Linked DNA regions of Homo sapiens. The protein of the gene in region 6 purifies or fractionates together with the protein of the main gene of each other region. This does not show direct contact. Each region holds a gene or a part of one and is shown on either strand. Other genes may lie near its edges. The genes, in order: PLOD2, SLC2A12, CNTNAP3, GAS6, CHSY3, MAN1A1 and ITGA7.

The links.
Region 1: the proteins of MAN1A1 (region 6) and PLOD2 purify together in Homo sapiens (affinity purification with mass spectrometry; one large-scale study listed by BioGRID and IntAct). This does not show direct contact.
Region 2: the proteins of MAN1A1 (region 6) and SLC2A12 purify together in Homo sapiens (co-immunoprecipitation; one large-scale study listed by IntAct). This does not show direct contact.
Region 3: the proteins of MAN1A1 (region 6) and CNTNAP3 purify together in Homo sapiens (affinity purification with mass spectrometry; one large-scale study listed by BioGRID and IntAct). This does not show direct contact.
Region 4: the proteins of MAN1A1 (region 6) and GAS6 purify together in Homo sapiens (affinity purification with mass spectrometry; one large-scale study listed by BioGRID and IntAct). This does not show direct contact.
Region 5: the proteins of MAN1A1 (region 6) and CHSY3 purify together in Homo sapiens (affinity purification with mass spectrometry; one large-scale study listed by BioGRID and IntAct). This does not show direct contact.
Region 7: the proteins of MAN1A1 (region 6) and ITGA7 purify together in Homo sapiens (affinity purification with mass spectrometry; one large-scale study listed by BioGRID and IntAct). This does not show direct contact.

Annotation. Positions count from the first base shown.
Region 1 is NC_000003.12:146,071,410-146,074,859, reverse strand, and holds part of PLOD2 (procollagen-lysine,2-oxoglutarate 5-dioxygenase 2 isoform 1 precursor), read left to right. Parts: intron 1-1,507; coding exon 1,508-1,573; intron 1,574-2,194; coding exon 2,195-2,299; intron 2,300-3,436; coding exon 3,437-3,450. UniProt on the Homo sapiens protein: Forms hydroxylysine residues in -Xaa-Lys-Gly- sequences in collagens. These hydroxylysines serve as sites of attachment for carbohydrate units and are essential for the stability of the intermolecular collagen cross-links.
Region 2 is NC_000006.12:134,003,697-134,008,024, forward strand, and holds part of SLC2A12 (solute carrier family 2, facilitated glucose transporter member 12), read right to left. Parts: intron 3,239-4,328; coding exon 3,116-3,238; intron 1-3,115. UniProt on the Homo sapiens protein: Insulin-independent facilitative glucose transporter.
Region 3 is NC_000009.12:39,099,036-39,103,363, forward strand, and holds part of CNTNAP3 (contactin-associated protein-like 3 isoform 1 precursor), read right to left. Parts: intron 3,681-4,328; coding exon 3,462-3,680; intron 1,116-3,461; coding exon 876-1,115; intron 1-875.
Region 4 is NC_000013.11:113,822,497-113,826,338, forward strand, and holds part of GAS6 (growth arrest-specific protein 6 precursor), read right to left. Parts: intron 1,055-3,842; coding exon 879-1,054; intron 1-878. UniProt on the Homo sapiens protein: Ligand for tyrosine-protein kinase receptors AXL, TYRO3 and MER whose signaling is implicated in cell growth and survival, cell adhesion and cell migration.
Region 5 is NC_000005.10:130,183,310-130,187,472, reverse strand, and holds the end of CHSY3 (chondroitin sulfate synthase 3), read right to left. Parts: intron 3,245-4,163; coding exon 1,682-3,244; 3' UTR 839-1,681; downstream 1-838. UniProt on the Homo sapiens protein: Has both beta-1,3-glucuronic acid and beta-1,4-N-acetylgalactosamine transferase activity. Transfers glucuronic acid (GlcUA) from UDP-GlcUA and N-acetylgalactosamine (GalNAc) from UDP-GalNAc to the non-reducing end of the elongating chondroitin polymer.
Region 6 is NC_000006.12:119,189,262-119,193,589, forward strand, and holds part of MAN1A1 (mannosyl-oligosaccharide 1,2-alpha-mannosidase IA), read right to left. Parts: intron 623-4,328; coding exon 403-622; intron 1-402. UniProt on the Homo sapiens protein: Involved in the maturation of Asn-linked oligosaccharides. Progressively trim alpha-1,2-linked mannose residues from Man(9)GlcNAc(2) to produce Man(5)GlcNAc(2).
Region 7 is NC_000012.12:55,694,345-55,698,524, forward strand, and holds part of ITGA7 (integrin alpha-7 isoform 2 precursor), read right to left. Parts: coding exon 4,039-4,180; intron 3,683-4,038; coding exon 3,594-3,682; intron 3,479-3,593; coding exon 3,351-3,478; intron 3,203-3,350; coding exon 3,107-3,202; intron 2,934-3,106; coding exon 2,872-2,933; intron 2,725-2,871; coding exon 2,555-2,724; intron 2,089-2,554; coding exon 1,939-2,088; intron 1,294-1,938; coding exon 1,178-1,293; intron 627-1,177; coding exon 434-626; intron 352-433; coding exon 271-351; intron 179-270; coding exon 99-178; intron 1-98. UniProt on the Homo sapiens protein: Integrin alpha-7/beta-1 is the primary laminin receptor on skeletal myoblasts and adult myofibers.

The DNA.
Region 1 (3,450 bases), on a different chromosome or scaffold from region 6:
CCCATAGCAAAATGCTTATTGATTATCCCATTATCAGAATTTCTAAGAAATTAATAAAGTCACAGTTTGCTCAATGATTTGAAAGGTGATCTAAAATGAAATGTGAATACTAATGCCCTAAAATAAAATCTTAGGGGATTTTTTTTTTTACTTTAACTTGAAGAAAAATCAGTATTGATGCACAGGAAAAATGCTATAGGTAAAAGTTCTTAAATCTTATGGATGATTATTCAATTTCTTGCCACATTTTAGAATCAGAAAGCTAATTAATATTAGAGGGAATAATGAGATAATATAGAAATCTGATCCATATATACTATATAAACATGAAATTTATTAAAATTTTGAAGATACCTTTGTTTCCTCCACATAAAAAATGTTTGAGTTACATATAAACAGATATGCAAAACCAGTGACATAAATTATGGTATAAATATTCAGCCCCTAAAATCTAGCCTCAAAAGATGTATTTAAGGCAAATATCTTTTAAAACATCTTTTGATTGGAATTATTTTGAGTCTGTGTCTCACTTCCTCCCTGCTGGCTCTCTGTATTTGCACTTTGTAAAGAGAAAATTAATAATTTCTAGAAATATTCTAAATTTCAGAAGATATCTTTTTGGATATTTATATTACTCCATGTATTAATAATATTTTAGTAAATATCCATATTTGAATAAAGAACTTGTCCCAATAAAATAATTCTTTAGCTTTTGTTGAAAAAAGTTGAGATATCTTTGTGTGTGGATTTTATGCCAGAGATTGGTCAAAAAGAATCAAATTCATGGATTAGAATAAAGAGAAACCATTTTTTAATATAGAGCCCTAACCCTTAATTTTAGTAACTGAAAGAAGTGCAAGTGCTAGTAAACTCATGATTATTCCTTGATAAATATTAATAACTGAAGTGAAGGCAGAAATTTTAAAAACTCATTTAAAAAATCAAATTTAGAGTAATTTACTATAGACATATAAGACAGACCCTAGTTAATTAGTTCACTAATTCATTTTTACAAATACTTGTTGGTAGAATTTTGCTCCTTGTCTTTTACCTTTAAGCACACCTTTATTTACCTACTCTGTGTATATATTAAAATACTGATGGTCCCCAACTTACGGTGGCTTTACTTAGGAATTTTCAGCTTTATGTTGGATTTATCGGGGTACTGTGTGTTTTTAACCTCCCACGGGTTTATTGGGACATAACCCCATCGTGAGTCAAGGAGCATCTGTAAAATGTGTAAATCTATTCACTGTAAGATTACTTAAGTTTTAAAATCCTGAGGTACAATATTTCATAAATAAAAATTTTGTATTTCATAGAATGACATAAGCATATTCAGAACCAGGCAAAGATTAGGCTATATACTGTGATTTCTGAAAATTACTATTTTGTCCACTATACATAATCATTTATAAGTTGAATAATTTCTAAAATGCATATGCTTTATACTTTTCAGTGAAGTATTTATAAAGATATTTGTTTTAATATGTACTTCTTTTTATAGGACTGGAAGGAAAAGTATATAAACCGTGATTATTCAAAGATTTTCACTGAAAATATAGTTGAACAGGTTTGTATTAATGATTACAAAGTATAGAAAATTTTGCTGTTATTTTCCAGAAGAAATATTATTAATACTACTTTCACAGAAGATGTGAAAGTGGAGAAACTACCTTTTAGGTAAAATTTATTTGATTCAATTACTGATTAAATAGCATTAAGGAACATACAGTTGTAAAATGTAGAACATAGAAATTAACATTTTAAAAGCATGCCTTTTTAAAAAGCATGCTCCTATGTGTCATAGCTTTCTGAAACCACTAAAAATAGAAACTGTTGACAGATCTCTGATGTAGAACTCTTGCAGTGAAAGCTTATCTTTGGAAGAAACTGGGCTGTCTTTCTGGAAGAGTCTTTTCTCAGAGACATCTTTGAAACATGAATTCTCTTTTAGCTTAGTGTTCAAAACTATTGTTAATACCTAATTTTTGAGAATGTAAGATGTCATCAATTCTGAGGTGCACCATTATTTATGTACCATGAGAAAAAAAATACTGTCAATAAACCATGACAGAAAACTATGTTTCCTAGTCATACAGGATTTTTTATTTTACACATATTAAAATAACTATTTTAGACTATTAAGACACAGAAGTTATTATGTCTTCTAACGATGATGCATATTTTATAGCCCTGTCCAGATGTCTTTTGGTTCCCCATATTTTCTGAAAAAGCCTGTGATGAATTGGTAGAAGAAATGGAACATTACGGCAAATGGTCTGGGGGAAAACATCATGTAAGTTGTAATTTCACACTAAGAACTAAAATGTATGTGGGGGTTAAGTAGATACTCAGAGAATTCGGAGGGGTTATATACTTTTTCTCATATGTCTCTGAGTTCTAGACTTAGATAAATTGGCTAGCCAAGGCTCTGATTTCAGTCTACTTCTCCCACCAACCAATTTTTTTAACACTTAAGTAATTTCATTAGTTTGGGCGGGTTTCTCATTTATGCATGTAATTACACTGGATGTTCCCTAAGGGTCGATGTCCTCAGGCCAGAGTTTGTTAGGTAACACATGTCTTTACAGAGTGATGTCACTCTTTTCCAAGGCCACTTTTTATTCCTTGCGTTTTCACAGTGAGCTGTGGTGAAAATTCTAAGGCAAATGTTATCTGGCTCTGAAAACTGTTTTTGTGTGTAAAGATAGGAAGGAGGGATCTGAGTGCCTTAGGTGTAATTCAGTTTTGCATTTGCATTCAGTGTCAAAGACTTGGCAGGAAATACTACTGCCAGTGGTTAGATGTGTTTCTTTCCCTCTGAGAACAGACATGCCATTTTAGCAGAATACTCTGGAATATTACTGCCTCTGCACGGTTATGTCCCCCAGGTAATGAGCTGATAAGGGAGAGGGAAGCTTAAAGTATAAGGAAGAACTTAAGTTAGTGGGTGATGAAATAATGAAAAGCAATCATTCAAAAACTTTTGAGTGTTACAAATAGAAGTGAGGAAGGGCGGGGAAAGCTTGTTTTTAGTGTTTGGTAATACAGACAGCAGATATGCTAAGTGTATGCTCATCAAGCAGCTGAGACTGCCTAAAGGGTCACTGTAAAAAAAGACTCATTTTTAAGAAAGGATGTGAGGGCTTAGGAAGTCAATTTTATTTACTTTATAGCTAAACTTCACATATACATTTAAGAAGTAGGAAAGGAGTCTACTGACCTTACATTACTTTGTTTCGTCATTGTATCATTGACAAAGCTGTTACCTAAGTTATTTTGATAATTTTACAGTTAAAGCAGATGATATACCACATTGGAACAACTGTTATTTTTATTGTCTATTATGATCTGTGGTTGAAAAAAAATACTATAATATAAATGGGAATTGCACGTGGAGTACAGCTTATTATGTCATTAATGTTGTTTCTAGGATAGCCGTATATC
Region 2 (4,328 bases), about 15 Mb from region 6:
AGGTTACTGCCCTCGCCATTCAGGTTGCCCTCCTTCAGCGAACACACTGCAATTTTTAAATGGCCCTCTCGAGATGTTTTACTCAGAGCTGAATGCAATGCTACAATTGTGTCATGATCACTGCAGAGTACATTTGTCTATCTGGAACAGTCTGCTTTTATTGATACAGCTGAAATTGCATAAAAAATGTTGGTGTTTAAGGGCTTACTGCCAAGTAGAACCTCACGTCTTTTAGATCCCTGTGTCCTACACTTGGAAAATTTATTTTTGAAAATAAGTAGGAAATGTCAAGCATTCCAATTAAATGTCATCTAAAGGTTTTAGAGCATTCTAGGCTTTTTGTTTTTAAGTGGATCTGTTTTCCTACATTTGTTCTAAAAGCCCATACGGAACTTCTAAAGCTTCACTAGCTCCTCCAGTGTATTAGCTATAGCCCTCCCAGAGATGTGTGTCATCTTTTCCATCCCTCATCAATTCCATTTTTTCTTTTATATTTCTCTTTCTCCACATCAAATAGCAGATGGAGGGTGTGTGTGTGTTGAGTACGTGTGTGCACATGTGAAGGTTGAGGGCATGTGTTTATGTGTGTGATCTGAGTAGGACCAGTTTCTTTGTTTCCTTTAATCTTGAGCTACTTCTCAAAAGGTAGGATAGGAACATTTGAAAATTTTATATAAAAACCCAAACCACGCTTAAATAGTAACCCCAAAGGTTAATTTCCAAAAGTGGATATACTAAATATATATGTATGTATGTGTGTGTATATGTGTATATATGTGTTTATATATATGCATGCTTTTCAGCAAACATCCATTTTTGAAAATTGTATCTATAAAGACAATATATATGAAATGAAGAAATTAGGTTATTTGTTTCATAGAACTTCCCACAGTCTGGATTTTCTTGATTGTAGTCATGCTGCATGTTCCTCATCTATATATGAAATAAAGAGAAACCGACTCATTGGTCAGTTTTCGTGGATACTGGGGAACTGCCACATTATTTTGAAAACTAGAAAATAAAGAGAAAGTTTCAAGCACGTATTTTACCTTTCTTATATGATCCACACTTCAGGATAGCCAAATAGCTAATGAGAAGAAATTTCTCTTTAGAGAGGTATTTCAGATAAAAATGGAGAAGGAATGACATAATGAGTAGGTCTGGGAAATGATCATCAAAGGAGGCCAACAATGACAAACAGCGAGACAACCAGACCTCATGTGCCTCCTGTTGGCAGTTCACACGGCAGCAGCTGCCACAGAGTTCACCAAAAAATGACATGTAAATCTCCTCAAGCCTCTATCGTTTTTAAAAAAATAAATTTAGGCTTTATTTATTTATTTTAGCTCTATCATTCTTTGTAATCCCCAAAGGGTTTCCCTTCTTACTTTCTTCATGTTTACAAGTTGGAGCTAGGAAAACAAGGCGAATGCTTCTGTTTCTGATTTGATCCCTAATATTGGGTTATTTTATTATAATATATAAATCTAATTTGTGGTTCCTTTAGATAGGGCTGCTGAATGGAACACACAAACAGCCATTTTTTGTTTTGCTTGTAACATTTTTTTATGCCTTGCCTTATTTCCGACATAGGGATCCTCAAATTTTCTATACAATGCAGTTGAATTTCAGGCTTCAGTGGAAAGTAACAATGAGCCTGACCTTATTACAGAATCTCCCTGCCAGGCACAGTGGCTTACGCCTGTAATCCCAGCACTTCGGGAGGCTGAGGCAGGTGGATCACGAGGTCAGGAGTTCGAGACCAGCCTGAGTCAACAAAGTGAAACCCCATCTCTACTAAAAATACAAAAAAATTAGCCAGGCTTGGTGGTGCGCACCTGTAGTCCCAGCTACTTGGGAGGCTGAGGCAAGAGAATCACTTGAACCTGGGAGATGGAGGTTGTGGTGAGCCGAGATCACACCACTGCACTCCAGCCTGGGCAAGAGAGTGAGACTCTGTCTTAAAAAAAAAAAAAAAAAAAAAAAAAAAAAAAAAAGAATCTCCCTTCTGCTGCTCTCTATCCTTAAATTTGATGAGATCCCTTTTGAAAATAAAAGTTTGTTATTATTACAAGCAATTCTGCCTGACACCTAAACATGACTTTTGTTATTGTGGATTGGTTTCTCTTTCTCCTCAAGCCTCTATCTAAATCTAATAGCAATTTACAAGAAACATAAAAGACAGAGAGGAGGGCTAGGCGTGGTGGCTCGTGCCTGTAATCCCAGCACTTTGGGAAGCTGAGGTGGGTGGATCACTTGCGGTCAGGAGTTTAAGACCAGTCTGGCCAACATGGTGAAATCCCTGTCTCTACTAAAAATACAAAAATTAGCTGGGTGTGATGCTGTGTGCCTGTAATCCCAGCTGCTCCAGAGGCTGAGGCAAGAGAATCATTTCAACCCAGGGGCCGGAGGTTACAGTGAGCCGAGATCATGCCTCATGCCACTGCACTCCAGCCTGGGCAACAGAGAGAGACTATCGGAAAAAAAAAAAAAAAACAAAAAAAAAAACAGAGAAACAGAGAGGGGCACGTGACATGACTATAATCAACAAAATTCAGACTGGAAAATTCTATGAAATAAATCATTTGTTTTTTAATAGATTTTTAATTTCTTTAAAAATATAAGGTATAGTGGGGGTGAGGAGATGGAGGAGATGGAGACAAAACCTACAAATTATGACATATTTCAGTGACTTGTAAGTTATGTATTTGGGTCATGATTCAAATCATGTATAAAAAGCAATTATAAGACAATTAAAACATGAACACAGACTAGGTGTTTGATACTATGGGATGATTATATTTTTAAGTGTGATAATGACATTGTAGTTATATGTTTTTGAATGTCAAAGGTCTATGCTGAAATTTTTCAGAAAAAACAACATTGCATATGGGATGTGACTCAAAATAATTGGGTAGGGGAAGAGCAGGTGGGGTTATAAATAGATTTACATTCAAAACTGTAAATTGGGTCATGGGTACTTCAGGGTCATGGCCGTTCTCCTTCTAAGTGTGTTTGAAAATTTCCACGAAAAAATGGTCTTTAGGTGGGTGTGATTCCCTAACATTTGTCCTACGAGGACCAAAGACATTAGAGGAAAACAAAGACTTCTTACCAGTTACAGTCAAAAATGTCAGCGAGATGAGGAGATTGATGCCCCAGTTCATGCTAGAAGTTAAAGCCATGGCTCGTCCTCTGATCCCACCAGGAAAGATCTCGCTGAGCACCAGCCAGGGCACTAGAAGAAAGGCAAGAGTGGGTGGCGGACAGCACATTTAGCAAAAACCCATTGAATCTGAGTGCCAGCACCCTGATCTCTCCCTGCCCTCATCCTGCCGGGATTTGTGGTTGGGAAGCACCATTTCCTACCTCAGCAGAACAGGACAGTAAAGGGACGTGCTGCCTCCTCACCTCCAGCCAAGGAAGAAAGGATTCACAGAAACATTAGGAGAGCTGGGCCATGGTCCCCATGCATAGGGTGAGGGGCATGAGGTGCTGGTATCTGTCACAGGCCCAAGAAATGCAAACCGCAGGGGCAGAGGTGGGGCCACCTGCCTGGCAGCAACAAGAGAGCCAGCTCTGGACATCTGCCAAGCACAGAAGCCTCAGTGCCAGAGCCCAGGTGTACCTGCTGTAGGACTGGGCTGTTTCCTCAGCTCTCTCCCCCTGACCTTGGAGGAGTCAGAAATCACAGCTAATGAGTGGGTAGGAAATGGAGCCAGGTGGGCATGAGGAAGCCGGCTACTCTCCCTTCTCTGACTTGGGCGTCCTGGCCTGAAGCAAGCTGGATGGAGAGAAGTTCTAAATTAAATAGAGCTCCAAGATTTGATTATTGTACCAGACTAAACATTTGAATTTCTAGAAGGAGAGTCTTATTGGCACCAAAACTCATCAGAGGACTTTTTATTATCTGAGAGTGACAGGGAACATTATGGGGCTTGCCTGATGGGATCAGATGGGGCAATAAAGGAGCAAATTAACTTGTCTTCTGCTCACAGCCTATCAAGCCCAGTTTGCCTAATAAAAAACAGCCAGAAGTTCTTACTGTGGGCTTTTACAAACATTTTTACAACCTCATCTCATTTGATCCTCACAAACCCCTACAAGGTGGGAACTATTACGAAACCTCTTTTATCAAAGAGGAAACTGAGGCTTAGAAGAGTTACTTGCCAAGGTCACAGAGCACTTAAGTGACAAACGTGGCATTATCCCTAGTAGTCTCTGGAATTCATGCTTTTTTGTCATTGTGCTTTATTGATAGTGACTCAATAAATATTTATTAATTAATAAATACATGTCAAGTGTAAGCATCTTTGATTCAGTGGAAA
Region 3 (4,328 bases), on a different chromosome or scaffold from region 6:
GCGATCTCTACTCACTGCAACCTCTGCCTCCCGGGTTCAAGCAATTCTCCTGCCTCAGCCTCCCGAGTAGCTGGGATGCCCGGCTAATTTTTGTATTTTTAGTAAAGATGAGGTTTCACCATGTTGGCCAGGCTGGTCTTGAATTCCTGACCTCGTGATCCGCCTGCCTTGGCCTCCCAAAGTGCTGGGATTACAGGCATGAGCCACCACGCCCAGCCCTTTTCTTTTGAAAACATGATTGTACCTGAGCAGAAGCTGTGTGATACCCCACTGCACTCCTCTAAGAAGAGTCAAACATCATAGAGCACAGTGTTTGAGTGATCCTGTTAATGACTGTCAATATTTAAATATTATTTTCCCCTTCTAGTTAGTATGCTTGTTTTATAAGAAAAGACATTTCTATAAAGGCCTTTTGAATCACTTCAAGTCATTGTCACAAGGGACAATGGGTAAGACGATTGCTCAAGCCTAGGAGTTCAAGTCCAGCCTGGGCAACAGAGAGGCTTGAATAGCAATACGTTGTCTCTAAAAATTAAAAACAAAAATAACAATGATGGTTTACTGATGTTAAAATTAGAACAGTACAAGGACAGAGTTTTGAAAACCAAATTATTTCAAGAGGATTAGCATTGAACAGATGCTAGGGGTAACCCAGAGATCTTCTAAATAAGAAACCCAGAGAGGACTGATAGCCTTAAGTTTTCAAAAACAGTCATATCCCTTCTAAATTCAATAGAGGAATTTGGTACAGAAATTATTCCATTTCAAATAATTCAATCTTATCCTCTCTTTATAATATCAAATGCCAGAAGCATTCTTCATGTTATTTAAGTTTCATGTACTTTCCCTATAACCTGCTCCTTGGTCACACTTACCATTGGAGCAGAACGGCCCATCATAGGCTGAGAAGGCACAGTCACAGGTGACCCCCCTGCGTTTCTCTCTGCATCTCCCTCCATTGCGACACAAGTGTCCATAGGTGCTGCAGTGTCCTGCACACCCTGGCTCCACTCCTGGCGTCACTGTGGCTCTTTCTTCCAGATCCAGGGCCACCCCGTTCAACTGCAGAGACCGAATGCATCCTAGAAAGCCTCTCTGTCTGGTGGCCGTTCCACCTACAACGGAAACACTGCAAATAGAAATGTGTTCCTTGGTATTTTATTCAGGATTTTATGTCCATGTCAAACTCAGGCCTTATGGAGAGTGGCAATAATCACAATGTGTCAAAAAATTTTGTGAACATACACAATTTTGAAAATGTAACTGTTATGAGACATGAAGCTTTAAATGACATTGAATAAAACACTTATTTACATAACTTTCAAACATGGTGAGTCTGGCAAATAGTCCTAAAACATTTCCTTAACTTCAGGTAAGAAAGAATTTCACTTTAGTTCCTTCACAAAGAACAAAATACATAATATAAACCACATCAAACACTATTCTACTTTGTTTAGGAATAAGAATGTGTATTCATCAAACATTATTTTAATTTCTTTATGAATAAGAATGTGCATTATAATGGTTAGGTATGAACTTCCAAATTTTTCACAATAATAAAAATATATATGGATAATTTCTTACTTGGATGGACTCTAAAAATAAAGTGTGAAAGGAAATGGAGAGGCAAAGGAGGGGAAGTTGGAAGGGGTGACACCGTACCCCAGGATCTCCTCCTCTCAGAGGGTACAGTGCTAAACAGTAATTGAATACTGCATGCATGCACATTTTGTCATGTCAAACTTGAATGCTGAAGAAACCATTTAGAGAGGTTTACAACACCTGTGTAGTGACAAACACCATTATGAAGGCGACAATTCTCAATGTTAGGAGCATGGAAATTACCTAGAGTTTCTGGAAAATGCAGTTTTTAGCCTCCTCCCAGAGATTCCAATTCGGTGGGCCTAAGGTGGGGGCCCCAAATCTGAACTATCAATCAGCTTTGTGGGTGATTCTGAAGCCAGTGATTCATCCACCGCAATGAATGCTGATTCTAGGTGAATTTTACGCTAATTGTGTTTCTAGGCATTCCCTTAAATAATCTCCAAGATTACAAGTGAGAAAATCAAGTTCTTGGTTTGACCCCTCCGTGTAGTCCTCCTTTCCAGTAGTTTGATGGTTTCATGTCCTTTGAAAAAGCCTCACTGCACCTTAATAGAAGAGCTAACCACGCCTGAAGCTAGGTTTTAGGAAGTCATGGTATAACACCCCATCCACATCCACATACATACGTGGGTTCACGTGTAGCATTTAGTACCTGGAAGTTGTATCTACCCTTCCCTGTAAATTAGGTTGGATGATAATTTGTGATTTAGTCCAGTTTTAATTAGATTGCATCCTTATTCACTTTAAAACACTTAAGAAATGAACAAGTGAGAGCTTTAATCTGTGTAGCTCCTAAGTTAGAATAGTTTCAAAAGCAATATGGAAAAATAAACAACAGTGATAAAACAGTAAGTAAGCAAACTAAAGGAAAGACTTCCAGAGCTATCACCTTTAAATAAATGGAGTGCAAGAACAGATGAGCCAGACCAGGTTATAAACAAGGAGCCTGTGATGAGAGAGCCCCAGAAGTGAGAACAGCAGCGAGGAAAACCGGGAGTGGGCTCCTGGAAGCCTGGCCGCGGGGGAGGTGCGCAGTGCTGCTTCCAATCAGCGGGTATCCTGCGATCTGGTTTTGAGTGGACCCTGGAGGACTTCTGTCCCAATTACAAGCTCTCTAACTCCACCGAGAAGTGAAACTGAAGGAATGGATAAAAATGTCTAATGATCTCACTAATAGTGTTGATAAAATATAGCTGTCACATATGCCAATCCTCTGCAATGTGAATGGTTCAAGTTTGGGGGTCGGCTATCCTGGGATCCCTCTCATTAGCTGGTTACTCCACTTCTCTGAGGCTTGGCTATCTCATCTGTAAACAGATGACAATACCTAAACATTGATACCTAAACACTGAGATACTGCAGGGCCCGGTGGCTCGCGCCTGTAATCCCAGCACTTTGAGAGGCTGAGGTGGGTGGATCATCAGGTCAAGAGATCACGACCATCCTGGCCAACATGGTAAAACCGTGTCTCTATGAAAAATACAAAAATTAGCCAGGCGTGGTGGCACCTGCGCCTGTAATCCCAGCTACTCAGGAGGCTGAGGCAGGAGAATCGCTTGAACCCGGCAGGTGGAGGTTTCAGTGGGCTGAGATTGCACCACTGCACTCCAGCCTGGGCGACACAGTGAGACTCTGTCTGAAAACAAAAACAAAAACAAAAACAAACAAACAAAAAAAGAAATGTCAAATAAGAAGCACACAGCAAGCTCCTGGAACCTACCAGGTTATCAGCAAATAGTACCAATAAGCAGTAGTTGTTGTTGGCAACTGTTGCTCTCAGTACATCACAGTTCTTATTTTCTTTTGGTCCCTCTCTGGACTCACACTAAATTCAGTTATAAACCACCAGCACTCACCAATGAAGAGCTGGCTGTTGAGCTGTAAACGAACGTGCCCATCAGCAGGGGCAGGCTGCATCTTCTGAGGAAGCTGATCAACTTGAAGAGACGCTCCTTTAACATTTCTCTCTGCCCTCACGTGGTGCCACTGATTGTCATTAAAGGGAGTGGGTGACTGCACCGTGACCTCACAAGGTCCATTCCCCACATCGAAGGAAAAGGTCACTTCTGTGGGAGCTAGAAATATTAGATATGAATATTGCTCAAGCAAATTCACAGAAAATTGAGTCTTGTGCAGACACAGGAAAACATGAAGGCACGCTCAGGATGGAAGGAGATAATGACGGCGATGCAGAAAAACGGGACTGTGAGTTGGGGTGGGGGCAGAATAAATCTGTATCCTGGAGGAAAACAGAACGGATTTTAACATATTTATCCTCAGAGTTCACAATTCAACCTTGTTAAGTCCTAAATAGTAGAGATATGTACCCATAGCTGGACTACCCATAGCTATGTACCTATAGCTAGAATACCAAATAGTATTTGTTTTTGAGGTTTCAGTAATTTTATTTACAAACGGCTCAAAGTCTCATCTAATTCTATAAACACTGAATGTAAATTTTGACAGTCATAAATTAAGCTTTGGGTACATAAAAAACAATATGTCTGGTCAAATATTTTTGGAATTCAGTAAACAATGTGATGAGTTTGGTTTAAAGCTCTGGCTCTGCTGTTCTGTACTCTAGGGAAGGCATGACATTTTAATGGATTATTACGTGCTTCATGCTTCATTGTTTTATTTTCTCTTAAAAATGATTACTGGCTGGGTGTGGCAGTTCACACCTGTAATCCCAGCACTTTGGGAACCCGAGGCAGGCAGATCAC
Region 4 (3,842 bases), on a different chromosome or scaffold from region 6:
GCACTTGACCAGGAACTGGGGTGGCCCTGATGGGGACCCAGGACCCAGCCCTGCGGTGGCGGCCTCCCAGCCCGGTGGGCACTCACGCTGGCACCACAGCCCAGCAGCCCAGGGGTCGGCTGTTGCTACATAACAGCAGCTGTTTATTCCAGATGCTGAGATTGGGTCTGGCCCTGGTAACGAGCATTTGCATGAACCAAGCCTGTCTGTCGTATCCCAGCAAGCGGGAGGGCTCTGTGGCCCCGGGGTGGGCAGACTTGGAGAACGTGAGCCTCTCTGGTTTGACCCATGTCTCCCTCCTTAGCACACGAGCGAGAGAATAAAAGCTGTTTCTGTCACCTCTTGATTGTTCTGTGGGGAAAACAGCATGAGTCCCCCAGCCCAGGACAGCTGACTTATTGTGAGGACCGGGGGTGGGGGGACCTTGTCCAAGGGGCAGCTGCACTCAGCTCCACCCGGTGTCCCCCACGGAAAGACGCTGTTGGGGGACCGGCCAAGGTCACAGATCCGACTTTTCCAGGGAAATTGGAAAACTGAGTTTGTTGCTGAAATCATCTGACTTAAACACCAGAGACTAATTCAGATTGCTGTGAGCCACCATCTGCCCAACCGAACAGGGGAAAAGCTCCCACACTGTGAGCCGAGTGTGGCTCGCAGGCGCCGGCCCCCTCAGCTGTGTGGCGGTGACCTGGTGTCCAAACAACCCCCGCAGCCCGAAGCGTGGCCCACGCCGGGCTTGGCTCATCAGACCTCTGGTCAGAGGCTTTGGGGGTCCCTGGGGATCCCACCGCGGGCCCCCTTCGTCCCCTGCCAGGGAGTGCAGCCCACGTACCCGTGGGTCGAGCCGGTCAGGACGCCCTGGGTGGCGGAGGCCCTACCTGCTTCTTGAGTTTCTTCGTGGAGTGATAGTCTACCAGTGCCACAGAGAGAGGCACGGCACGGAGGTCGGGGGCCCAGAGCGCAAACAGCACGCCTGTGTCTGCGGCTGGGCGGATGTGAGCCACGACTTCTACTTCCCAGGTTGATTCAGTCCCGACGTCCAGAGGGGTCCGCACTGCAATGAAAGCGGTGCATTATAGGGTGGTATGCACGGTGGAGAGGCCACAGTGAGGTCGGAGCAGGGCCTCGAGAGATGCAGTCCCAGCCGGGGTGGGAAGCTGTGCAGACAGCCCCGGATCTGGGACGTGATGGAAAACTCAACAGACTGGTTCAGATCTTGGCCCGGAGCCCAGAGGCACCGGGGACCCCCAGGCTGTTTCTCCCTGGCCACACCAGTACCCCACTTCCAAATGCCCTGTAGGTGACCACCAGGCCACACAGGCCCGTCTGAGGGGCCACAGGCTGTGCACCATGGGACGCAGGCCTGTCCCTGCCTCCCTCCGATGTCCTCTTGTTTCAGGAGCGCCTGACAGCTCCTTCCTCAGAGCGTGCGTGGCCTCGTGCCTCGCATCTCACCTGCAGCTTTCAGGTAGCAGCACAGGGCCCAGTGGGGGCTGAGAGTTTAAGATAGCATGCGGACAGGAGCTGTCATGAGCACGGTGGTCTGGGGTCTGAGCTGTCAGGAGCACGCGCGGTCTGGGGTCTGAGCTGTCAGGAGCACCCGCGGTCTGAGTTCTGAGCTGTCAGGAGCACCGTGGTCTGGGGTCTGAGCTGTCGGGAGCACGCGTGGTCTGGGGTCTGAGCTGTCAGGAGCACCCGCGGTCTGGGGTCTGAGCTGTCGGGAGCACGCGCGGTCTGGGGTCTGAGCTGTCAGGAGCACCCGCGGTCTGGGGTCTGAGCTGTCGGGAGCACGCGCGGTCTGGGGTCTGAGCTGTCAGGAGCACCCGCGGTCTGGGGTCTGAGCTGTCGGGAGCACCTGCGGTCTGGGGTCTGAGCTGTCAGGAGCACGCGCGGTCTGGGGTCTGAGCTGTCAGGAGCACATGCGGTCTGGGGTCTGAGCTGTCGGGAACATGTGTGGTCTCCCAGGGAGAATGCCACGGCATATCCTCTCCACGCTGAGCCCTCCGTGGACTAAGAAGCCAGAAGAAAAAACTTCCGCCCTGTTTTCAGTGTTTCTATCTCACCCAGAATTCCAAAGTCCTGATAAAGAAGCTGTTTTAGGAAAAAGGACCCCAAATCACTGTGTGTACACATTTGTGACTGGGCGCCTCGCACTGCAGGCCAAGGTTGGGGTCAGAGTGAATTGTGCTGGTTTCCCTGTCTCTTTCCCACGGGGCTGTGTACGCCTGAAACCCACATCGCCTGTCCTGCCTGTCCCTAGCTGGTACCCGCCACATCAGTTCTCAACAACCATTTATGGCACCGAAACACACAAAATCAGAAAAAGTAACAAAAATATTGCAACAGAATCAAAAAGTAACAACAAAAAGTCTCCTGTTTGCCGGTCTTCCCATAACCTGTGAAGGGAGAGATGATGGTGTTCTTTAAAATGGAAGCTCCCAGTCGGGCGTGGTGGCTCACGCCTGTAATCCTAGCAATTTGGGAGGCTGAGGTGGGTGGATCACCTAAGGTCGGGAGTTCGAGACCAACCTGACCAACATGGAGAAACCCCATCTCTACTAAAAATGCAAAATTAGCTGGGTGTGGTGGTGCATGCCTGTAATCCCATCTACTCGGGAGGCTGAGGCAGGAGAATCGCTTGAACCTGGGAGGCGGAGGTTGTGGTATGAACCTGGGAGGTGGAGCCAAGATCGTGCCATTGTACTCCAGTGTGGGCAACAAAGGCGAAACTCCGTCTCAAAAAAAAAAAAAAAAAAAAAAAAGGAAGCTCCTGACAGGAGGCTAGGCACATGTTGGCCATCGGGGCTTCACAAGGGCACCGGCCTCTGCTCTCCCCGGGAAGGTTTCCCGGCTCCACGTGGCCCCTTGCATGGAGGCTGCACAGACCCGGAGATCTGCAAGCCTGAGCCCAGCAGAGTCGCTGCAGAGTGAGCCAGGCCAGTACTACCATTCCCAGCAAGTCTCCTCTGTCTTGTAAGAGACGTTACTGGTATAGTTTGAGATTCACTGGAAATGCATGGAGCTGTAACTGCTTCTGTCCGGATAGACCAAAAAGGGCCGGCAGACGCGGCCGGCAGTCACTGGAAATGGCCCCTGTGATGCCTGCATAAGGTTACCCCTGAGAAATGTGTATGATATTAAGTGGAAAAAGGATTTAAGCATTTCATATGACATGATTTCGTGTCAAACATTATGATGCTCTAGATTTGGAAGTCCAAAAATCAAGACTGAGGGAGAACGCGTGTGCACAGTCAGTCCAGCCAGTGGCAGATGGCGCTTTTCTCAGATGCCTTTCCTGACACGGTCACGCTTTTGACACCCGGGGGGAGACGGTGACACTGGATCTGGCTCAGGACGGGGCAGGACCCTCCCCTTTGCTCCGCGTGGATCCCCTTGAACCTGGGGTTCCTGCTGGGTGCTTGAGGGCCGGCAGCCCTGAGATCTGACGGAGGGGGCGCTGCCTGCCCTCTGTGCGTGTGGGGGCTTCACCATAAACGGCTCGGTGTCCAGGAATAGGGCAGGGCTGTGGTGCCCCAGTGGGGCCCACGTGGGGTGGGAATGTGAGGCAGGGTGGGGCCGAGCAGTAACACTATCCTCACAGCAGCACCCCCGGAGCCTGCACTGGGGAGGGCGGCAGCGTGGCGTCACAGGACTGGGCCAGCAGCTCACATCCACCCTGTCCTCCCTTTTTCAGGCCTAGGTTCACTGTCCCCCAGGCAGCTTCACGGCTGTTTTTACACACCTCCCATTGTAGCTGTCTCACCGGGTCATCGGTGACCACGGTGTCCACCATGTTACCGAGAGCTTCTCTGTGCCCCTGGACGAGTCCTAAGGCTGTGCTG
Region 5 (4,163 bases), on a different chromosome or scaffold from region 6:
TGGCCTCATGGCATTCAGTTAAAAATAATGGCAACAATTTACAACAATCACTTTCAAATCAATTTTGATGCAAATTATTTTTCCATTAAGTAGAAACAGAACATCAAAGTGCACAACAATATGTATAATATGCTGCATTTTGTGTATAGAGGGTTAAAAAAGTAAAATGTGTGCTTCAGAAACTCTAGAAAGACATGCACAAAACACTCACACAGCCCAAACAATGGTCATGTGTAGTCAGGTGACAGATATGGGTGGATGGGGAGTGAGGCCAACAGCTTTAGGCATTTAAAAATTTTGTTTGATTTTGGAACCATGCAAATGTATTACCTATTTACAAAATAAGATTTTATAATATGCCTTAATGACACTCCATTGGATGGATGTTCATTTTCTCTTACACTTCTTTAATCCAATTATGCTTTTCTAGAAACTGGACACCACTGATCCAGGTCAAAGAAAGAATGATATGTAAAACTAAATGAGATATTTCCTGACGTATTTTTAATAATTATAAAATTGATGTCATATTAATAATTTCTCCAGTGACTTTTGAGATACCTACCAACCCATATTAAAGGCAATTTTTGAACTGTTCTTGGGTCAGCTTGATCCCAAAGCTGAAGAGATTGAGGAAGGATGTTTCTCCCAGATGGTAAATTATTGAGTAAAGAAATTGCTCAGTTTAATCACTTATGAAGGCTAGGTTTTCCAGTATAATAAAACAAACAGCATACCATAATCCCTTGTTAACTTTTCAAGCTGCTCAGCAAGCATGTTTTGGTGAATATGAACAGAAACATATCAAGTGTGAATAAAAGGAAACAACAAAACCTTGTCAGTGTTTTTGAAAAAGAATACTGCTATACCTGTGTTTTATTTTAAATAAACAGGTTCTGTCATATTTTATCTTCTTGCCAGCAAATGAAGGACATTGTTTCATAAAGCTTCTAAAATGTACATGAATATTTAATTAAATCATATTTCCTTGAGAAAATAAAGTTCATTCGCATTTATAGCAGACAGTTGTGAGGAGCTCATAATTGTCATAAGACCAGGGTAGCCAGTACCGGTTGCTTGTGGAACAAAACTCCTCAATTTTTAAAACTTTTTTTAAAAAATAAACATACAATCATAGGTATTCATTTACTTTAAAAATTCTAAAGATGAAGAAAATTATTGTTTATATATTTAAGTCCTTGTATAAATTACAAAACTCAAGTTTATGTTACAGAGTCCCTTCCCCATAGGAAGCATAAAGCACTTTTGTGGTACCTTTCACCAGTAAATATTTGTATCACATTGAATTTGAGAAACCAAATAAAAGTCGATATTGCATCTTTAAGCCCCAAGAGAACATTCTTCTAAGCTGTCTCTTGTGATGAATGCGTTTCAAAAGTCATTTGATTGCTATGATTTAACTCAATCTCAAATAAAGTTATATAAAAGTAATAACATATTGACTTCAGTAGAAATCTGAAACATCAGTGAACTGCAGACTCTTCTTGCTTGAGGTCAACAAACACCCTTAGGAAGACAACCAAGAGTAGTTTAAGACCAGGACAACAAAATAAAATTATAACAATAATAATAATAAAATAACAATAATACAATAAAAATAACAACAACCAACAATGAGGTAAACTCCCCTTAAAAAAGGCAAAATGTGTTGCCTGGACTGTCAGGAGAGAGTTCGATTGTACCTGACACCTAAATGTTTTTCAAGCCAGAGTTCAGCCAGTTGCATGGTTGAGGCGAAAGTACTTGCCTTGGATCCTAAGCACATCTTATACTGCTTAGGGTCCAAGTTAGGATCACAATGAACTGGATGGAAAATATGCACCACTCCTACTTCTTGGCTTCTGAATGGCCTTAAGCCAGATAGAATGACTTTATTGTAGAGATCTACATCTTCTAGTCCCCAGCCTTGTATTGAGGTATCAAATCCACCTGCACCTAGAAGATCACTTTTGTAAATACAGGTGATGCCATATCCATAGTCTCTCCAAAATCCAGTCTTTTTTGAGAATATGAAGTAATCATCAGTGGGAGGATTTCCCCCGTTTGTTACCTTTGGGTCATACTGGCTAAAGATGATGGGATAGTACACCTGTTGTCCCTGAATTGTATTGTCTCTACATCGTTGGAGAAAATCTTCTCTGAAGATCAAGTCAACATCACAAAATAGCAGCAAAGTGTCATTGTCAAACTGGGCAGAAGCCATTTCAAGACCAAGACCTCTGGAAAACTCTCCCTTCATTGGGATCAGGGTCATTTCTGCTTTGGGGTACTTGTTCTGGTACCCTTTTATCAGCTCAATATGCTTGCTGGAGTCTTGGCCAGAATCCCTACTGAAAAGGATAATGACCAACTTTACATTCTGCTTTGGGATAAGACACATGTTTTCAAAGTTCTCCATGAATCTCAAGAAAATGTCATACCTTCCGATGAGAGGAACGAGAATGTGTACTTTCTTTTCATTGTGCCCTCCCATTTCTTTGGCACCTTGAAAAGAAGATAATATCTTTAAAGAATTAGATATAAAGGAGAATGACTGAGTTTCACTGTTAATACTCTCCACAAGACTGTTGACATCTAGCTCTTCGGTCTCTCTGAAGAAAGGCTTGCTGAACAACTGCTGAAGATAGGCATGACGTCTCACTGGCACAGTCAGTTTCCTTCCCTTGTGTCTTTTGTATAAAAGGAGTAAATCCAAAATGTACTCCACCCCGTGCATGGGGTTAACTCTGCGGTAGCCATACTGAATTTCCTTGAAGTCAATGAGCCGTCCTCTGCTCTTGGCATTCTCATTGATCATCTCCATCACCTGTAGGACGGTATCATCCAGTGCTGTTCTTAAAATGCTACTGAGGCTCTGTCGAGGGGGCTGGTTCTCAGCTGCTGAGTATAGAAGCTTCCCTGTCAGGAACTCCCATTCTATCACTTCATTTCTCTCCCGAGGCTGGAAGTGGTTGAAAGAAGGTATCACTCCCAGCTGCTGGTCCTCTTTGCTCACTTCTGTGTTACTGAGCTTGCTCATCAGGGCACTTTCCCTGTGGAGCTGGATGGTGCGGTAGCGAAGTTCAGAAATTTTGCGGCTGAGCATGTAATTATGCAGCCTGTATTGGTATGCAGGCCTTTTGTTGGGATGAAGTGTTATGGCTGCATGGATTTTGCTATTGTGAAGGTCTTGGATGTAACCCTTCCGATTGTGTTCATAATTTTCATGGAACAGTTGTTGCATCTGAAAAGTAAAATTAAAAAAATCAGGGTTAATTTTAAAAGATTTATCTAAAAAGAAAACCAGCGATAAACTAAAGCATCTAAATGAAAATGTTAATACATTTTTGGTATGGTATTTCATAACAAAAATGGTTTGTAATATTTATATTATTTAAAATTAAAATAGTTTTATTATTTGTAATTGGTAGATGAAATTCCATGTACTTATCATGTACCACATGTTTTGAAGTATATATATATAATATATAGAGAATATACATATAGTGGGATGAGTAAATCTAGCTAATTGATGTATTCATTACCTCACATAGTTATTATTGTGGTGAGAACATTTATCATCTTTTTTTAGCATTTTAAAGTATATAATATAGTTATTAACTATAGTCATCATGTATTCAATAGATCACTTGAATTTATTCCTCCTATCTAACTGAAATGTGGTATCATTTGACAAAAATCTCCCCAACCCCTCTCTCCAGCTGGCTTAGCCCCTGGTAACCAACATTCCACACTCTAGTCCTATGAAATCAACTTTTTGATTTCTATATATGAGTGAGAGCACAAATGTCAGGTTCATAGGCTCAAATATTGCAAATGAACCTCTAGCTATACATAAAACAACAATTGACTGTGTCCATAACCCCATAACAGATCACGGAGAAGGAGAGAGACAGAATGGACACAGCATGAGTCTTCCAAAATAAGGATTCACCCTAAGGAGGAAAACCAATGACCTGTTGTTTGGAATGGCAATAAGAAGTTATTTGCCAGGGGAGTCGTAAATTTCATTTAGCATCCTGATATACTATTTTTACCGAGTAAGTTCTTGGTAAGATAAGGTGAAACGGAAACTATACTGATCTACACTCCTGATGTAAAGTATCATACCCAAAATAGACATGCTTGACATCCTTATGAAA
Region 6 (4,328 bases):
TTGTGTTTCAAATTCCTATTTTATAAGAAGGGAGTGGGATTCATGATCTGTTTCATGGGGGATGTGGAGAAGATTAATAATGGTTAATAAAATGCTAAGTTTCTCTTTGCAGGGAGATAGAGACCCTTGCCCAATGTTATTGGCAAAAGCAGAAGTCAGTAAATTAGGCTGGCTTTAACTCTTTATGGCCTGGATTTTTGTTTCTTGGTAAACTAAAGGTAGATATTTTTAGGAAGAAAAGCATTGCCTTTTAAAATAAAATATACATTCCTTTGAGACATTAATCACGATCATCAAGCTTCATAGGCAGAGCGGATAGTCTTTTGAGGGCAGCAATGACAAAACTGCATTAAATCAAAGCATGTGGGAATAGACCATAAATGAAGAATAACATGTACTCACATGTTCGATTATATGATTCATGACAAGTACGGGCAATTTCAGCCCCGAGTTCAAGGTAGTGTTGGGCCATGCCTTCGGGAGCTGCATCAGCCCCGAGTGCGAACATGCCCCCCGCGAAGCAGGTCAGGTGGCCCATCTTGTGCTCCAGGAGGCCCCCTTTCCACTCTGCGATATAAGTTAGTCCGCTGCTAGACTTGCGGATCAAATGAGTCTCGATAGCCTGTGAAAAACACTTATTTTTTAACATTTTGTAATCTCTTCTCAAATTTATACTAAAAATATGCCCAACATTAAAAAAAAAAGAATAGAATACACCTGACAATCAGAGTTTGGTGTTAAAAATCCATTCAACCTGAAATTACATGCTATTGCTTTCTGTATTCCTCCTCTAGTTTATGCCTTATTTGTTTGATTAGTCAGAATTAACACTGCTGCGCCAGCACATTTGGTTTTGCTTGGTTCTGTGACCAAACATTGTATTCCTCATATTCAAAAAACTTTCTCCTTCCCAAAGACAGGCCACTGTGCAGCAGTAATAGTTGGTTTGGTACATTTTCATTTCCATAAGTGGTGAAATAACACAGCCCAGGCCCTAAGGTGGATGAAGAACACAGCATATTTGTGCATGAGATCCAGGATGGTGGCAGAACTCTTCCTTTCACTTCTGTAGGCTTGGAGGGATAACAAAATAGAGTGGCAAAGAGGAGGTGTTCTGGGGCCAGAAGACTTGGCTTCAAATTCCAGCTCTGACACTATCTCTAATTTGTGGGAGTGAACAATTTGCTTACTATATCTCTAAATCTCAGCATCCTAATCCATAAATGGGAACAACAGGATCTCCTGATACGACTCTGCCACATTTTGTTTATAAAGCAGTCACTAATGCAAGTGGCACTTGATAAGAGTCATTTATAATTATCATTTACATCTCCAAAGTGGTGACGCTTGAATCAAGTTCCTCTCTAATACTTCTATTAAAAAGCACACTATTATATAATGAATAAATGTATATATTTTAAAAATCAGAAAAATCTTTAAATTTGGGAGAAATGATAATGTTTACAAAAATGATTTATAAAACATCTTTTATTTCTATCCCAGGTCTGTTGATATTCTCTTAAACTAGACAGGTAAGTAAAATATGCCTTATATTTTAAAAAGCAAAAATAAAGTGTGTTTGGCATTGCTAATCTCCAATTACTCTAACAGAAAATGTTCTCCCCACTGCCCCACAATTACTTCATGGAAGGAAAAAGGACATGACTGTGTCTATACCTGTACACTGCTATCAAGAGAGAGGGATTTGTTAGGAAGCACATTTGGGAATAATAGACACAGAAAAAAACTTGTGATAGAGAAGAATGAATGAAAATGAACACACAGGAAGCTAAAACCTTTCCTACCTTTATTAGAAATAAACGAATGAAACCAAGATGGTAAGAAATAAATGAACATATTACTGTGCTCATTAACCGTGGTTAAGCTAATGTTATTGATGGTTTAGTTATTACATTAATATTTCATTCTTATTTTATGCGACTGAACATCTTAGCTATTTATACTTCTCATAACACAAATTGCAATAAAGTCCTTCAAGCAGATACTTGTTCATCACCTAAGAAATTATTCTTTCTACATGGCAAGAGTAGTAGCTTTTGAGGATGAATTAGAGAAACATTATTACCCTGTTATGGATCCTAAATAAAGTATTTCTGGCATGATTCGGACCAAGTTGCTACCTCCTAATAAAAACTACAATGAAATTCCAAGACCTTCAAAGCAATAATTTTGTGTGGCCATGGGAAATATAAATAAATACAAAGAAGGATAGTCTTTAGTAGATCTGAAAAAACTGTGTCAAGGATACAGATAATTGATTAGAAAAAAGAGTACTATATATTTTGTGATTTAATCCTTGTATAATTGATTTAAAAAACTGGTTTGATGAAGCCTTCAGAATCGTAAGTGTCTGATATGTCTTCTGCCCAGGTATCATTTGCCATTGTGAGTTCCTAGTGTAGTCTCCAGATAGGGCCATGATAGCCAGTTGAAAGCTCAAAATATTTTGTTATTAAAATAATCAAATAAAACATATCACTCTGGGATTAAATGCTTCCCAAAATCTACTTGAAGCTACAACAGAGTAGCCATATCTTCAGTAATCAATTGTCCAGAACAATAGTGTACAGCATCCTCCCCTTGGTTACAATAATCTTCTAAAGTACAACTTAGCAGAAATAAACTTTGCTGTATAAGACAATGCTACTTCTCAAAACAGAAATTTAGTTGTTCTAGCTTTGCTTTCTAAGTTGAAAATATACAGTGGATTGAAAATTAGCTTTTACTACTAAGAGAAGCAGGAAACACTTTGACTTCATTTGTTCTTAATGGATTTTCCTGTCAATGATTTGTCTGAATACAATATACTAAAAGTTGTGTGGGTATGGTTTTAGGAATTAGGAAGAAAATATTTCAAATAATATTTTAAAGCTGTCTTTTTTTGAACATCAAGATCTTAGACGGCCAATTTAAGATTAGAATAATTAAAATGTCTGCCAGTATGGTAATTAGAGGATGACAGAATGGAAACTATAAAATATGGAGAACTCCCCAGGTTAAAATCTGAAACCTCACAGCAATGAGGAAAAATAAACCTAAAAGAGGCCATGTGGATCATATCCTAGTTTGCTTTTGATGTTAATCATGTGCCTTTATAAAGGCTGTGCCAAATGTAGGCCAACGTTCTCACTAAGGCGCTTCTGGTTCCTACATGTGAAGTAGTGAAGACTTGTAAAGGAAACCAATGTCATACTCAGTGTAGTTAACCAGAACAAAGCAAGCTGCATTTATATTTAAATAAAAAAGTACGCCTATGTCAAAATAACCCAGACCTCTTGTTAGAAAGACCAATTTTATAATGGCTACATCTTTGGGATTACAAATTTCCATTTTTTTCCTATGAATTAACACTTTATTAAAAAATTTCTAAGCTGTCAAGAAAAATAAAATTTTTCTGAGGACTGAGCCACTATTTTACAACACTACTTGAGAAGCCTTGATAATAATATTAAAAGAATATATGTATTACCACATAAAATACTTAATCGCAAAAGCACCTGATTCCACTAAAAAATTTTGTTCCTGAAGAGTACAAATATTTTAGATAAAGTAATTTTCTTTCTAACTTTATTTACTTTCTAACTTTATTTTCGGTTTTGATTGAGGCTTAACTGGAGGTGTTTCTTAGTTTACTTTTATACTAGCCTCCTCCTAGAGACTTTAAGTAGTTTCTAACTTACCTTACTAACTTACTGCTTGCAAATTAGTAAATGAAGATTTAAGTGTAGAATGGAAATTCTTACAAATAAATCCACAGTGGATGAGTTAAAAGGAACAGGTGCTGATATAGACAAACTTTAATCTTAATTTTGGTTCGACATGTAATCTCTCTGAGGTACAGCAACTTTATCTGTAAAACTGGGTAATAATCTCAAGTACTGTGAGAGAGAAAAAAACCCAACTCCACCGCTTCATTTAAAGGAGCTACCTAACACACAGCTTAGCACATGGTAGGCAATTCAACACTCAACTGTTGCCTCTTACTTCTCCACTGTAAAGAATCTTTGATACTATTAATGATCTTCCCTGAAATATGAGTTTGTTCAGATTTTTATGTGTGGATTTCCTTAGAGTACTGTCCATTTATCTCTGGGGACAAGTTTACTTCACATGGAGGTAGCCATTGGGACTGTCTGTCTTCTCAGGCAATTTTAACTTAGGCAATTGTCAGAATACAAATTCAGGATTTCCCCCTGCATAATTTAAATTGTGGTCCTAAGGAGAGAATTCATATTTATCAAAGAATACTACTTTTTCAGATATGTGACTCTTAACTGAGGTTTAAACCATGCAAAAACTTTAACGGC
Region 7 (4,180 bases), on a different chromosome or scaffold from region 6:
GGGGCAAGTATGGGCATCAGGCACAGGCACCTCCCAAGGGGTCAGATGAGGTCAATATGACTACCCCCACCTCACCCTTCCGGCCCCGCCTGGCTTACGTGGCCAACAGCAGCTCTACCTCCAGTTCCGTGGTCTCAATGCTGATCCCGGAGGTGCTAAGGATGAGGTAGAAGGTGACCTAGGCCAAGGGTGGAAAGAGATTAGAGTCAGGGGTGGTCTACGGGCTTATGGAGAGGCTACTCACGTAGGGATAAGGGCAGATGTGCCAACCTGGGCACCTCTCTTCATGGGGTTCCCCAGCTCACACTCAACATGGGAGGCATTCTCATTGGACAGGCAGAGTGGCTTCTCCTGGAATGGGAGAGAAGGCAAGGTCAGTCTGGGTTACTGGAGCCCCTCAAGACCCCACCCCATCCTGCCCCCAGGTCCTCACCGCAGGGTCCAGGGCCCGGACCCCTGAGTAGTGCAGTGAGTCAGGAAGCATGACCAGGAGCTGGGCTTCATGGGCATCATCCCCATCAGCCTGGGGCTGGGCTGGGTCCGATGGCAGGTTGGTGACCATCAGCTCCAGGCCAATGACTGGCTGCCCACTCAGTGCAAACAGGGCTGTTGTTCCATCCACATCCCTGGAGAGTCAGACCCCACTCCTGCTAAGTTCTGAACACCTCCCCCTACCATTCCCCCGCCCAGTCTGCTCCCCCAGTACCTGCCTTCACTCCCTGAGCCTCTCTTCCCACCCCAGGTCCCCATCACACCCGTCCAAGCCTCAGGCCTCTGTACACACGACTGGGAGTCAGGGGACCTCCGTTCTCATCTCAGCTCCACCATTACTTACCTTGGCCAAGTAACTTAACCTCTCTAGGCTTCAGTTCTCCATCTATAAAATGAGACTAATATAATTCCTACCTCACAGAGGTTTGAAGACTAACCAATGAGATGTATGTAGACTGCATATTATTAGTGTACTGTGAAGGATTGCTATTCCTTGCCATGGGAGCCCCCGTGGCCCCATCACTGACCCTCATCTCAGTCTCCAAGTCCATCGGCAGGTCCTCTTCCACCTTCTGCCTTTTCTGCAGGCTCAGCCCTTCCCTCTGACTGGTCCTCCTGAGAGGGCTTTCTCTCAATCCTTGAACTCTTGCCCTCCCACCCCCACCCTGCTCTCTGCCCCCCTCACATGGGCAGAGGTTGGAATTCCGTGTCGCTGACCCGGGTACAGAAGCGGGCGCGGACCAGCTGCAGATTGCTCTGGCAGATCTTGTCTTCACCACAGCCTTGCTTCAGGAAGTGGATCTGGGGAGAGACATGAGATAAGGGGCATTCCTAGGGGGCAAGGCAGGGGGCAAACCTGTCACCATGGCATATGGTGGGTTAGAGTATCACAGGATTAAACAACCTGTCCTCAACTCTCAGATCTGCTGCTTATTAGCCATGTGATCCTGAACTGGGTCCTCTCCTCTGGGTCCTCTCATCATGGTAGTGATGGGAGCACTACCATGCCATGGTAGAGACTAGCAGCAAGTCAAGAGCTGGGCCACACTGCCCCAGCTCACATGCATGTAACTGAGTTCCGGATTTAGAACGGGAAAAGATGTCAAGGGCACCACTTCTGGGCCAGCCATAAAAACCATGCAAGCAAGGGGCCTCATGTTCTCCCTTCCAGCTGAATGGGATGAATGTGACTTCAAGAGCTTGAAGGCCGCATTTGAAGATTACAGAATCCCATCAACCTGAGCCCCCTGAATGACTACATGGAGTAGAGGAGCTCTGTCCCCTTGACTAGGAACATGGTCATTTAGGCACCTAGAGATATGAGGAATTACTGGAGTAGCATACGTGAAAGGGCTCTGTGAGCTGTGAATTGGTGTCACTGGGGAGGGACCATGATCTTTGCCCTCCCAGCTCCTCCCCCTGGGCTAAACCAGAACCCATGCTCACCTCTGCCCGCTGGGTGCTGGGCTGGTGGGCATTGAGGATGGGGGCCACTGGAGGCAGCCCCTGGCCAGGAGCCTGTCGCCGGAGCCGAGGGGTCTGGAGACTGTAGGACAAGGTCACTACAATGGCCCGAAGCTTGTCTTTGACATTTTCCTAGGAAGAGGAAGGTCTATTCCTCACTGGAACAATCCCCAGGCCTCAGCCCTGCTCAGTGCCCCAGCCAGACCTAGGACCAATTCTAAAACTTGGAAAGAATATTAGGGAGATGAATGAGAGAGGTGGAGAACTGAGCAAGGAGGAGGGAGAAAGACTGGGGTAGGGGACAGGGGAAACCTTTAGGGCTTTGAGGACCAGATGTGATGATAAAAGCTGCCACCTCCTCCATTCAGCTGGAAGAGGGGACATGAAGCCCCTTGCACCTCCTCCTCCTCCAGGGAGTGCAGAAATGACAGGAGAGGGCAGCAGATGAGGAGGAAGTGAGCTCAGAAGACAGGTTTCCCACGTGTCTAGGTCTTAGAAGGAGGCACGAGTGTGCTCGGGAAAAAGCAGCTAAGAGGAATCAGGGAAAAGAGATGGAGCCATGAAAATGACCCTCAGAAGCCAAGGGGTCAGTGTCCACCTGGAGCTGGAACATGGCGTCTCCACAGACTCGGTCATGCTGGTGCTTCAGCCACACGGTGCCCGAGGCCTGGTGCTTGGGTTCTTCCAGGTTACGGCTCAGGAACGTCACACGGGGAACCTGGCCCCGGAGCCTCCGGTCTGTGTCCGCATCTAACACATAGTCCAGGGCTGTGGCATGTTGGGAAAGGAGGAGCTGCTGAGCTGCAGAGCTGCTCCAGCTCACCCCATTCCAAGGGTGCTCTTCTACCACCTCGAAGTGACCCCCCTCCCTGGGAAACCCAAAAGGGCGAGCCACAGAGGGGGGACCGCACTCACCCACAGTAGGGCTATAGCTGCTGGGGACTGCAATGTAGCTGAAACAGACCCTTAGGTCCACACTGCGGGGGCAAAGGTGGCTCCTGAGCCAAACGAGGCTGATGGGCCAAGGCCCCTACCCCCACCCCATCTGTCACATCCTGTCACAGCCCCAGCCCCAAACTGGGGAGATAAAGGATCAAAGGGAGGGCAGGGGAAGCTGCCAGGGTCCAGGTGCCACCCGATCCCACCTCACCAGACCGAGTGGCCGCCAGCACAGTTGGGCTGCTCCAGGTCGATGCTTCGTGGAGCAATAGAGACCTCATGGGAGACATGGAGGATGGGTCTGGCCCTGGGATTGGGGAGTCAAGAGCACAAGAAACATGAGAACATGAGGCTGGGAAACACTCTTCAGCATTAGATTTGGCACTGAGGTCGGGGTCAGAGTCACAGGGAGGGGCTGACGGCCTCAGGGAGGGAAAAGGTTGAGAGGGGCTCACCTGAAGAGCACTGCGGTGTCAGCCAGGGAGCCCACCAGCAGGTCAGGGTATTGGTTCCCATCCATATCCAAGCTGCCTGACAGGGAGTAGCCGAAGCTCTTGATGCCCACAGCCTCGCCCTCCAGCACCTAGAGAACCAGCTGTCAGCCTCCCTCAATCCCACCTCCCGCAGGCCTCTGCCTCCCCTGATGCCTCTGCTGATTCCACCCACACCCATTCCCTCATCCCAGCGACTCCCCTCACCTGTGAAGGTTTGGCGACAACCCCCAGGCTGCTCCCATGGTAGATGAAGACTTTCCCATCACCATCAAAGGGGGCACCCACTGCAATATCTGCAGGGCACAGGGAAAAGGCAGTCACGCTGGCTGGGGGCCTTGCAGACAAGATCCAGGCCTCAACTCCCCCCAGTCACTCAGGTATGTTTTCTATTTTATTGAGAGGCTACAAAATCCCAGGCACTCTACATACATCATCTTTAATCCTCTTGGCCACTCCCTGCAGATATTACTAACGCAAAAAGGTTAGGAACTTGCCAAGGTCAGAAAGCTGGTAAATGGTACAGCTCAGACATAAGCTCAGGGACCCTCTCTCCCTGAGTCCTCAGAAGACCACACCCTGACCTCTGAGGGGCTTCCCCATCCCTCCTGTGGCCCCTCCCTCCCTGAGCCTTTCCAGTTCCCCGTCACACCTGGAAAGCCATCTTGGTTGAGGTCCCCCAGGACAGCCAGGCTGATCCCGAACATGGAGTCAGGGGAGCCGCAGAGCCGGAGAGGGGAGATCCCAGCCCAGTGACCCCCCTGGTTCAAGTACACATACACAGCACCCCCCAG